2 linked regions of the Homo sapiens genome follow. The protein of the gene in region 1 interacts with the protein of each later gene in a pairwise test. Each region holds a gene or a part of one and is shown on either strand. Other genes may lie near its edges. The genes, in order: DUSP13B and CALCOCO1.

Evidence for each region.
Region 2: the proteins of DUSP13B (region 1) and CALCOCO1 interact in binary tests that used the Homo sapiens proteins (3 or more experiments, as listed by UniProt).

What each region holds. Positions count from the first base shown.
Region 1 is NC_000010.11:75,093,889-75,096,765, forward strand, and holds the end of DUSP13B (dual specificity protein phosphatase 13B), read right to left. Parts: intron 1,908-2,877; coding exon 1,687-1,907; intron 991-1,686; coding exon 788-990; 3' UTR 548-787; downstream 1-547. UniProt on the Homo sapiens protein: Dual specificity phosphatase that dephosphorylates MAPK8/JNK and MAPK14/p38, but not MAPK1/ERK2, in vitro. Exhibits intrinsic phosphatase activity towards both phospho-seryl/threonyl and -tyrosyl residues, with similar specific activities in vitro.
Region 2 is NC_000012.12:53,717,338-53,724,637, forward strand, and holds part of CALCOCO1 (calcium-binding and coiled-coil domain-containing protein 1), read right to left. Parts: intron 6,447-7,300; coding exon 6,256-6,446; intron 4,847-6,255; coding exon 4,688-4,846; intron 4,279-4,687; coding exon 4,130-4,278; intron 2,493-4,129; coding exon 2,402-2,492; intron 1-2,401. UniProt on the Homo sapiens protein: Functions as a coactivator for aryl hydrocarbon and nuclear receptors (NR). Recruited to promoters through its contact with the N-terminal basic helix-loop-helix-Per-Arnt-Sim (PAS) domain of transcription factors or coactivators, such as NCOA2.

The sequences.
Region 1 (2,877 bases):
TTATGTTGTGCCAAGATAAGAACTAAGAAACTCAGAGCTATTTTGTTCCATCATATAACTGTCCTTTGCCTAGTATTTCTGGTATGTCTCCTTCCCAACCCCATCATCCTCTTGTTTAATGCTTTAATTTGTTAGGAGTCTAATTTTAAGCAGTCCGTTTGAAAGCAGAGTGCTAGTGAAAAGACTGACTGGTTTCAAGAGATGCTACTAGTGGACAGTGAATTTTGATATTTAGCCTTGGGTAGGATGGGCATGGAGATAATGGTGATGCATTGAACTTGGGTCTTTATCAGACAACCTAACTATTGGGTGAGGGTATGAGGAGGACAAGATGAGGAGGACAAGATGAGGACGAGGTTATCTAATCCTCACACTTGTACCCCCAAACCTTCCTCCTGCACCCAAGGCAGATATCACGAATTATTCCCACCTGTACTCCTCCCCGAGGCTGCCATCCCACTGAATCAGAGTTGGCAAGCCATCTGGAACCTTGTGACCATCCCGAGAGTAAGTCCTTGCCCCACAGACCACCAAAAGATCACCTGTCTTTATGACGATGAATATTTTATTATAGAGATGGACTGAACTCACTTTTGCATAAAGAATCTCTGAATTGGGTCAGGGAAATCCACCCGCTAAGAGGTCACCACCCAGCTATCCCTGCCTCTGCCTCAGCCCCCACTTGCTGTTTACATCTCAGGGTCACTAGAAACAGCAGAGCCTGCTGTTCCCAGGGCCAGGCTGGTGGGGTTGGGCCAAGGGTCAGGGATCCTGGCTGCCTGCCAGATCAGAACCGCCCCGTCTCCCGCCCCAGTCGGTTGTCCAGAACCTGGAGCTGCCGGAGGAAGCCTGAGTTAGGGCAGATATTGCGGTGGGCCTGCACCGTCTGGATGGCCTCTACCAGCGTCATGTTCTCACAGATCATGAGGAAGGCCAGGACAAGTGTGGCAGAGCGGCTTACCCCCATGGCACAGTGTACCAGCACGCGGCCTGTAGGGAGAACCAACTTAGCATCAGCTACCTGCCCTTGAACCACCCACCCCTTTGGGAAGAAGAGACACCCATGGCCATCCTCTACAGTATCCTGGAATACTGACACTGTCTACTCTGTCAAATGGGGCAACTGAAGCCCAAAGAGAGGAGGCTGGCTCAAAGTCACATAGCAAGTTAGAGGCAGGGTTTAGGTTAGCAGCCGGGATTTCCTTCTTCCAGTCCAGGTGCTTCCTCAGGCATCCTTTGCAACTCTGGGCCAGGGGAAGGGGGTTTACTGAATTCCTGAGGTCACTGGGTTTGCATCAGATTATAGGGGGTGTCCATCTACCTCCCTTTCCCCCGAGTTCTGCCCTCTCGACTGCCCCTGCAGCTCTATGCCAAGGCCTCATCTTAGAGGAACCCGCTCAAGAGCTTCACTGGGTCCTATACCTTCTGTCCAGTGCCTGGCCTCTTATGGAGGGATGTGGTGATGCTGATGACCACACTGCATCTTAGTTATGTCTGCAATTGCTAGCCTCCAGGGTGTCCCTGAAGGGGACACTCACTGAATGGTAGTAGCTATTTTCCCTATGGAGTGGGAGGGTTACTGAAAGGGTTTGTCTCTCTGGACTCCCACCCACCAGTGCTACTGGAATAATGGAGAGTCCTAAAGCACACCCTCCACCCTCCACCATGCCTGATCCAGAAGTGCACCTTGGGGAACACTGAGGGCAGCTCGGATGTATCGAGCAACAGGCAGAAAGTAGACACTGAGGTCGAAGAAGGGGTTGTCGTCCGCCTCGATGCCATAGTACTCCAGGGACATTCCACGGTAGAATTTGGCACCTGTGTCCACCTGGAACTTGCCTGCAGCGGCATTCACAACGTGGGTGATTCCCAGCTGGATCAGCTTGCTCTTGTCCCGGGCTGCGTACCTGGAGGAGAGGGCACAAGGGGTTAGGAGAGTGGAGGTAGATCTCACTGTGGCAGCTCTGGCTGGGTTGAAGTTTGCAAACACCCCCGCCCACCACCCACCAAGGGTAGAGACAAGAGCCTGCAAATTGGCCCAGGGTGAAGGGGCTCCTCCTGTTGGAGTTTAAGACTCCTTTTCGGGCTGGGTGCGGTGGCTCACGCCTATAATCCCAGCACTTTGGGAGACCGAGGTGGGCAGATCACTTGAGGTCAGGAGTTTGAGACCAGCCTGGCCAACATGGTGACACCCCATCTCTACTAAAAATACAAAAATTAGCCAGGCATGGTGGTGGGCACCTGTAGTCCCAGCTACTCAGAAGACTGAGTCAGGAGAATCACTTAAACCCAGGAGGCGGAGGTTGCAGTGAGCCAAGATTATGCCACTGCACTCTAGCCTGGGCAACAGAGCTAGACTCCATCTCAAAAAAACAACAACAACAACAAAAAATAGACTCCTTTTCAGGCCAGGCACTGTGGCTTATGCCTATAATCCCAACACTTTGGGAGACTAAGGCGGGAGGATTCATTGAGCTCAGGAGTTCGAGACCAGCCTGGGCAACATGGCAAAACCTTATCTCTACAAACAATGCAAAAATTAGCCAGGCATGGTGGCATATGCCAGTAGTCCCAGCTACTTGGGAGGCTGAGGTGGGAGAATCACCTGAGCCTGGGAGGTTGAGGCTGCAGTGAGTGGAGATTGCACTACTATACTCCAGCCTGGGTGGCACAGTGAGACCCCGCCTCAAAAAAAAAAAAAAAAAGAAAAATTAGCTAGGTGTGGTTGTGCAAACCTGTATTCCCAGCTACTTGAGAGGCTGAGGTGGGAGAATTGCTGAGCCTAGGAATTTGAGGTTGCAGTGAATGATGATAATCCCTGCATTCCAGCCTAGGCAACAGAGAGAGACCTTGTCTCTAAATAAATAAATAAAAATT
Region 2 (7,300 bases), on another chromosome or scaffold:
ATTACAGGCGTGGGCCACTACACCTGGCCATAAGTACAGTACACGTCACCCCTGCTTGAAAAATCATCAAAGCCTTTCACGCTTGTGGAATAAAAATGAAGCTCAAGATCCACCACAGTCTAACCTAGGCCTTATCTCAAACACTTCACCCGCACATTCAACTGCCCTGAGTGTTCTGGCCTTTAAGCCTTTGCTCACGTCTTTCTCTGTTCCTAGAATAGCCTCACACTCATCTCTGTCTACTCATATTCTACCTATTCTCACTGCTGAGCAAAGGGTTTTTTAACAATCTTCCACATAAACCCAGGGTACTGAAGAAGGGATTTAGGAGTTCTGCAGATACTTGATTTGAATGTCTTCTAAATTATTAACAATTATGTTAAAAAAAGAAAAACAACACAAGGCCAGGTGCAGTGGCTCATGCCTGCAATCTCGGCATGATTTGGGAGGCCGAGGTGGGCGGATCACCTGAGGTCAGAAGTTCCAGACCAGCCTGGCCAACATGGTGAAACCCCATCTCTACTAAAAATACAAAAAATTAGCTGGGCGTGGTGGCGGGTGCCTGTAATCCCAGCTACTCAGGAGGCTGAGACAGAAGAATCTCTTGAACCCGGAAGGCAGAAGTTGCAGTGAGCCGAGATCGCGCCACTGCACTCCAGCCTGGGCAACAAGATGAAACTCCGTCTCAAAACAAACAAACAAAACAAATAAAACCCATAAAATCACAAGTTAACACACTGGAGATCACCAATTGACATATGTTTCCAGGTTAATTCATTTTTTTGCAAAGCTCAGAATAGTTTCTACTGTATTTTCTATTGAATTGAAGAGTAAACTGAGTTGCAAGGTGGACAGTTTAAAAATTGTTATTTGCACCTACTTGTGTGTGACTCAAGGTGTTCTTGATATTGTACAACCAAAATAAAATACGGAAATACATTAGTTGCTGAGGCTGGCAGAACAGTCTTCGATAGCCTCTCATTTCAAAGTTTGGTATGCCTCAAAATTACCTAAGTGCTTTCATTACCTTTTAAGTAAAGGTTATACATTCAAATTTATAAAAATAAATTTATAGTAATAAAACATTGTTTTTGTTTATTCAGTGAGATTCCACACAAGATTAAAAACTTTATTGGTGGGAGGAGAGGAAAGGGTTCTGCTAAAAAGGTTTGAAAGTACTAGGCCCCACACCCCACCCCTTTTTTTTCTGAGACAGAATCTTGCTCTGTCACCCAGGCTGAAGTTCAGGGGTGCGATCACAGCACACTGCAGCCTTGACCTCCTGGGCTCAAGCAATCCTTCCACCTCAGCTTCCTGAGTAGCTGGGACTACAGGTGCATGCCACCATGCCTGGCTAATTTTTAAAATTTTTTGTAGAGATGGGGTCTCACTACGTTGCCCAGGCTGGTTTTGAACCCCTGGGCTTGAACAATCCTCTCGCCTTGGCCTCCCAAAGTGTTATGATCACAGGTGTGAGCTACCACGCCCAGCCATGGCCCTCCCTTTTTTTTTTTTTTTTTTTTTTTTTGGCACAGAGTCTCACTCTGTTGCCCAGGCTGGAGAGCCGTAGTGTGATCTAGGCTCACTGCAATTTCTGCCTCCCGGGTTCAAGTGATTCTCCTGCCTCAGCCTCCTGAGTAGCTGGGATTACAGGCACCTGACACCACACCTGGCTAATTTTTGTATTTTTAGTAGAGATGGGGTTTCACCATGTTGGCCAGGCTGGTCTTGAACTGACCTCAGGGGATCCGCCTGCCTCTGCCTCCCAAAGTGCTGGGATTACAGGCATGAGCCACTGTGCCTGGCCTCCACACCCATTTTAAAAAGACTTTTCTAATGTCTCTAACAAGATGTGTACTCATACACCTCCCTGGAGCTCCACAATACTTTATTAGATTTCTCTTGAGGCCAGGCGCAGTGGCTCACACCTGTAATCCCAGCAATTTGGGAAGCTGAGGTGGGTGGATCACTTGAGGTCAAGAGTTCGAGACCAGCCTGCCCAACATGGTGAAACCCTGTCTCTACTAAAAATACAAAAGTTAGCTGGGCATGGTGGCACATGGCTGTAATCCCCGCTGCTCAGGTAACTGAGACGTGAGAGTTGCTTGAACCCAGGAGGCAGAGGTTGCACTGAGCTAAGATCGTACCACTGCACTTCAGCACAGGAGACAAAGTAAGACTCTGTCTCCAAAAAACAAACAAAAAAAATTTCTCTTGTGACACTCTTATATTCCACTTTTCCACTCTGACTAATCCTGATTTAGGTATATGTCTTATGTTCCCTAGTAGAGTGCACACAATGTCTTCTTTACATTTTTATTCCCTTTGGTGTCTGGCTCTCGAGAGGGAATCAAACACTGGCTGGACAATGGAGAAAGCAAATCAACTCTGAGCCCCTTACCTCACTTTGCTCCTTGTCTGCTTGTACTTCTTTCAGTTGCCCAAGGAGCTTCTCTTGTTCCCGAGTCAGGGCCTTCACTGTGTCTCTAAGCCTGTGATTGGTGGGATGACATGTCAGACAATCTGCTCCACCCAGAGAAGGAATGGACTCAGGCCTCTGTCTTGTGCTCTGCTGCTGCTGCTCTAGGCCCAGAGCTCCATTTCACTCTGGGATGCATAAATCCCCAAGCCAGCTGATCCAGTTCTAAGCCCCAGGAAACCAAGATTCCAGGTTCTAGAGAACAATTTAGACAGAAATAGTTTTTCTTATCTTTTTGTGTAATATTTTAAGGAATGTTTTGCTGATGGCTCCCATTGTTTTCACTCAATCAAGAGACTAGAATCTAGTCTTTTTGAGACAAGGGCAGTCATTATTGATTATAAACTTTTGATCTAGACCAGAAGTTGGCAGACTCTTTCTGTAAAGGGCCTGATAGTAAAGATTTTATGCTTTGCAGTCCATGTGGTCTCTGTGGCAACTACTCAACTCTGCCATTGTAGTGCAGGACCATCCATTGACAGTATGTAAACGAATGAGCATGATGTTTCAATAAAACTTGAACACAGATTTGAAGTTCATACAACTTTCACATGTCACAAAATATTCTTCTTTTAATTTGTTCTTAACCATTAAAAGATGTAAAAACTATTCTTACCTGTGGGATATACAACAGGTGGCAGGCTAGATTTGGCTTGTGGGCCATAGTTGTTGACCTCTGGTCTAGATAGCCCCTAATCTTTTCCAGATGCTCAATCTGACCACTGCTTTTCTAACCTATGACTTAGAATGTAGACATCTAATATCTCCCTAGGGTGAGACTAACATATCCTGAAGAAGCCTCTCAGACGAACTCACTTATTACTTTGGGCCTTGGATAGAATGCCTCTTTCTTTTAAACAGTTTTTTAAAATATCACACCTACCAGTAGTAAATGAAACATAATTTTGTCATTTAATGAAATAAGGAACTAGAGTGTTTAAACTGGTGAAAATTTGAAGGATGGACATGGGAGGTGGTGGTTAATATTTATGCTACTTGGTAGAGAAAACAATTTTCTGGAAGAAGAAAGAAATTTATTCTGTGTGGCTCCAGAGGTCTCAGGACCCCCTGGTAAGTTATAGGAGAGGAGAGTTTGGCTCAATACAAGAGATACAAAAATGACAGCTGTCAAATGTTAAAGAGGCTGCCTCCTGAGGGTGACCTCTTACATACCCTCATACATATCTTACAATCCCAGTGCTAAGAGTTTATGATTTGCATCTTTTTTTTCCAGGGCAGAGATTCCATAACATTCCTGGATCACCAGTTATAATGTTTCTTAATAGTAAGAACACAGTCTAATCTTATCTTTCCTGTGGCCACATCTGAAATCCATCCTCTCTTATCTTGCACTGACTTCCATCCATTCTCTTCTTCCAAATCCTCCACTCCTAGCTCTTGCTCAGCTTTTGCTGTACAATAAGTGGTAACTATGATTATTTCTGAAGTGGAGGAATACAGAATAGCATTTGGAAAGATGGTAGAGAGCTCGGCAGAAAAGGGTATCCCCAGTAACTAGCTTGAGTGAGGGTGAGAGGGAAAGAGAAAGCGTGTGAGGCAGACAGCAGGTCTGCTTGCCTGAGAGAGGGGGCTGGAGTGCGGGGGTCATGGAAGGGAGAGGAAGTGACGGGGTCAGTGGACTCCCCTCACCTGTCCAGCTCCACTTCCTTCGTCAGCACTTTCTCACTGATGGTCTGGATGTCATCCTCTAGCTCCAGGATGCGTGCCACATGGTCTCCCTGTTGCCGGCTCAGGATGTCCCTCTCTTCTGTGATCTCCCCATGGGACCGGGAAATCCCCTGAAATTAAGTTTCCCCCAGAAGAAAAGGGAGGTTGGGACTCATCTCTCAAGTGGTGGAACAAAGGCTTAGGAAGAGCACACCAGGGTCTGACTGCTTCCACCTGGCTATCACATTGCCTTCCTTGAAAAAGAAACTGTAAGGGAACATTCCCTTACCTATCAACGTGGCCACCTCCACCTTACCCCAGCATTCCTATGTTCAAAGAACTGAGTCTCATTACACGTTTGGAACATGTCTCTTGTCACATCAAGTTTAATCCCAGCCACTACCCCTTAAACCTATTTCCTTGATGCCAGAACCATTGTAAAAGCCCACTAACATCTCTCCTTCACCCTCTTCACTGGGTTCAGATTTTGGATGCTGGGTGAGCAGCCAGGCCCTGTCCCCTACCTGGCCCAGCTCCCACCTTGTACTGTTCCATCAGCTCCGTGTGCTCCTGCCTGGCAGTTGCCAGAGCCCTCTCGAGCTCCTGCACTCGGCTCCTCAGCTCTGTCACCTGTCCCTCCAGCTGTAGCTTCAGCTGCATCAGGTCATTCCGTTCTTGCTGGCTCTCATCGAGCTGGTTCTACAGGCAGCAGAAGGAGAAGGGGAGTGTGCTGGTGGAGTACCCCTTCTAAGGTCCCATCCTCACCACTCTCCAGGTGCATTTTGGGTTTGGGAAGTTACATAGCTTTGGGTTATAAAGAGGTGAGGAAGGGGATGCTCAGTGTGCTACCGAATCCCGTCCACCACCCAGTCAGATGCACCAGCTCATGGCACTCTGAATTGCCCATCTCTCTTACCCCTCCCCACTCTAGGCCTGGCCCTTTCCTCATCCAGCAATTGCAGGAATCCCTCATGTGGCACAAGTCAATGAACACAGACACAAGGGATGGGTCCCCTAATTTTACCCTATCTGCTCTGGAGTTGGACAGACTTGGGTTCAAATCTTCAGTGCAATTTTTACTAGCTATGTGATTTTTTTTAAAGATAGGGTCTCACTGTGTTGCCCAGGCTGGAGTGCAGTGGCTAGCCATAGGTGCAACCATAGCATACCATACCTCAAACTCCTGGCCTCAAGCCATCCTTCCACCTCAGTGTCTCCCCCAGTAGCTGGGACTACAGATGCATGCCACTACACCCAGCTAGCTATGTGATTTTGAACAAGCTTCTTAACTTCTCTAAGTCTCTGTGTCCTCATCTGTAACATGATCCCTTAGTCTGAATTGTTGTAAGGCTCAAATGAGAATCACGATTGTGAAACCGCAACAGAGAGTAGGAGCTCACACATCTTTCACTTACGTGAGATATAAACATCTTCCTGGGTGACAGAGCAAGGCTGTCTCAAAAAAAAAAAAAAAAAAGAAAAGAAAAGAAAAGAAAAACCCAAAAAACAAACAAAAAAACCCCAAACAGTATCATTTCAACATGTAGTCAAAATAAAAATTATTGAAGTCTTTTACATTCTCTTTAAAAAATACTAAGTCTTCAAAATCTGGAGTATATTTTACCCTTATAGTACATCTCAGTTTGGATTAATTGCATTTGAAGTGCTCAAGAGCCATATATAGTTAAGAGCCTTTGGTATTGGACAGTACAGGTCTGGGGCCTTGCCTATCTGCTCTCACTCCCCACTCGTCCTAGAAGCAGGTCCTGTGCTCCCCTTTCTCTGAATGTTCCCTGGAGTAGCCTCTCTCCACCCTTTGATCTTCCTCTAGGGCATAGGGCAGGATGCAGTGCATGGAGAAGGAAGGCTGCAAAAGTTCTTATGAAATCCTGAGTTACACTGGCCTGTGGGTGGTCTCCTTTCCTGCCTTACATGTTCGTGTATGTCTATGTTAGACTGAGACTCTCCTGGAGGCAGGACTTTGTCTAACTTTCAACGAGGTCTTTAGTTGGCGCCACAGATGAGGGGAGGGTAAGGTGGGAAGGGTCCTCTTGCAATGCTGTCTCCCACTCCCTTGTCTGGGAATAACTCTGTTGCTCTTTTCTCACCTGTAACACAGTTGCCTTGGGGACAACCAGCAGGATGTCAGAGCCCCCATCAGCCTCCTCCAGGGTCACCAGTTCATCCATGGGCCTTGGCTCTCGGAACTGGAAAGGGGGGCTCTGCCCACACACCTGGCCCTGGCGGTTCACATATCGGAACTGGTAGAGCTGAGCTCCTGGTTTGGGCAGGTAGCTGGCTGTGGGAAGAAGAATGGACCCAGGACCCCAATAATCCACTGTCCTTGGCCCCAGCCCCTTGCTCGGTGTTCCATATACTGTTTCTTCTCTTCTCCACCTCCCACAGGCCATACTCTTCTCCCTCCTTTCTGCCTGTCCCTCTCCTTCCTTTCTTTCCCAAACCCACTGCCCCTCTATCATAATCATAATAATGCTAGTTACCATGTAGTGAGTGCGTACCATGTACCAGACACTGTGGTAACACTTTTTATTTTATTTTATCTTGAGACAGAGTCTTGCTCCATCGCCCAGGCTGGAGTGCAGTGGCGCGATCTTGGCTTGTTGCAACCTCTGCCTCCCGGGTTCAAGAGATTCTCCTGCCTCAGCCTTGTGAGTAGCTGGGACTACAGGCATGCACCACCACGCCTGGCCTGCAGCTTTCATTTTAAATCCTCGTAATGTCCCTATAAGCCAGGCATCCCCTTTTACTGTTAAGATAACCGACACAGGGAGGTTATGTAATTTGCCCAAGGCCAAACAGCTTGTAAGTGTTAGAGGTGAGATTTGAACCCAGGTCTTTCCCTCTTCTCACCACATAATTCTACCTTTCCCTCTTCCTTACTCCCCCATTTTTCCTTCTTTGGGTAGGACAGGGGACTAGATGCCCTCTGAAGTTCCTTCTGTTTCTATGTCCCTGATTCTGCGATAATCCCGTGATTCTCTATCCGCTGAGCGCTGTTGGATATATTCTCATTATATTTATTTTCGTTTATTTTTCCTTGTCCTTTGTGCCTAACTTTTAATGTTTCTGAGCCCACTACCTTCTTTCAAACCTCCACTCCCTTGGCTCCTCTCTCCCAATTTTCCATCTTCC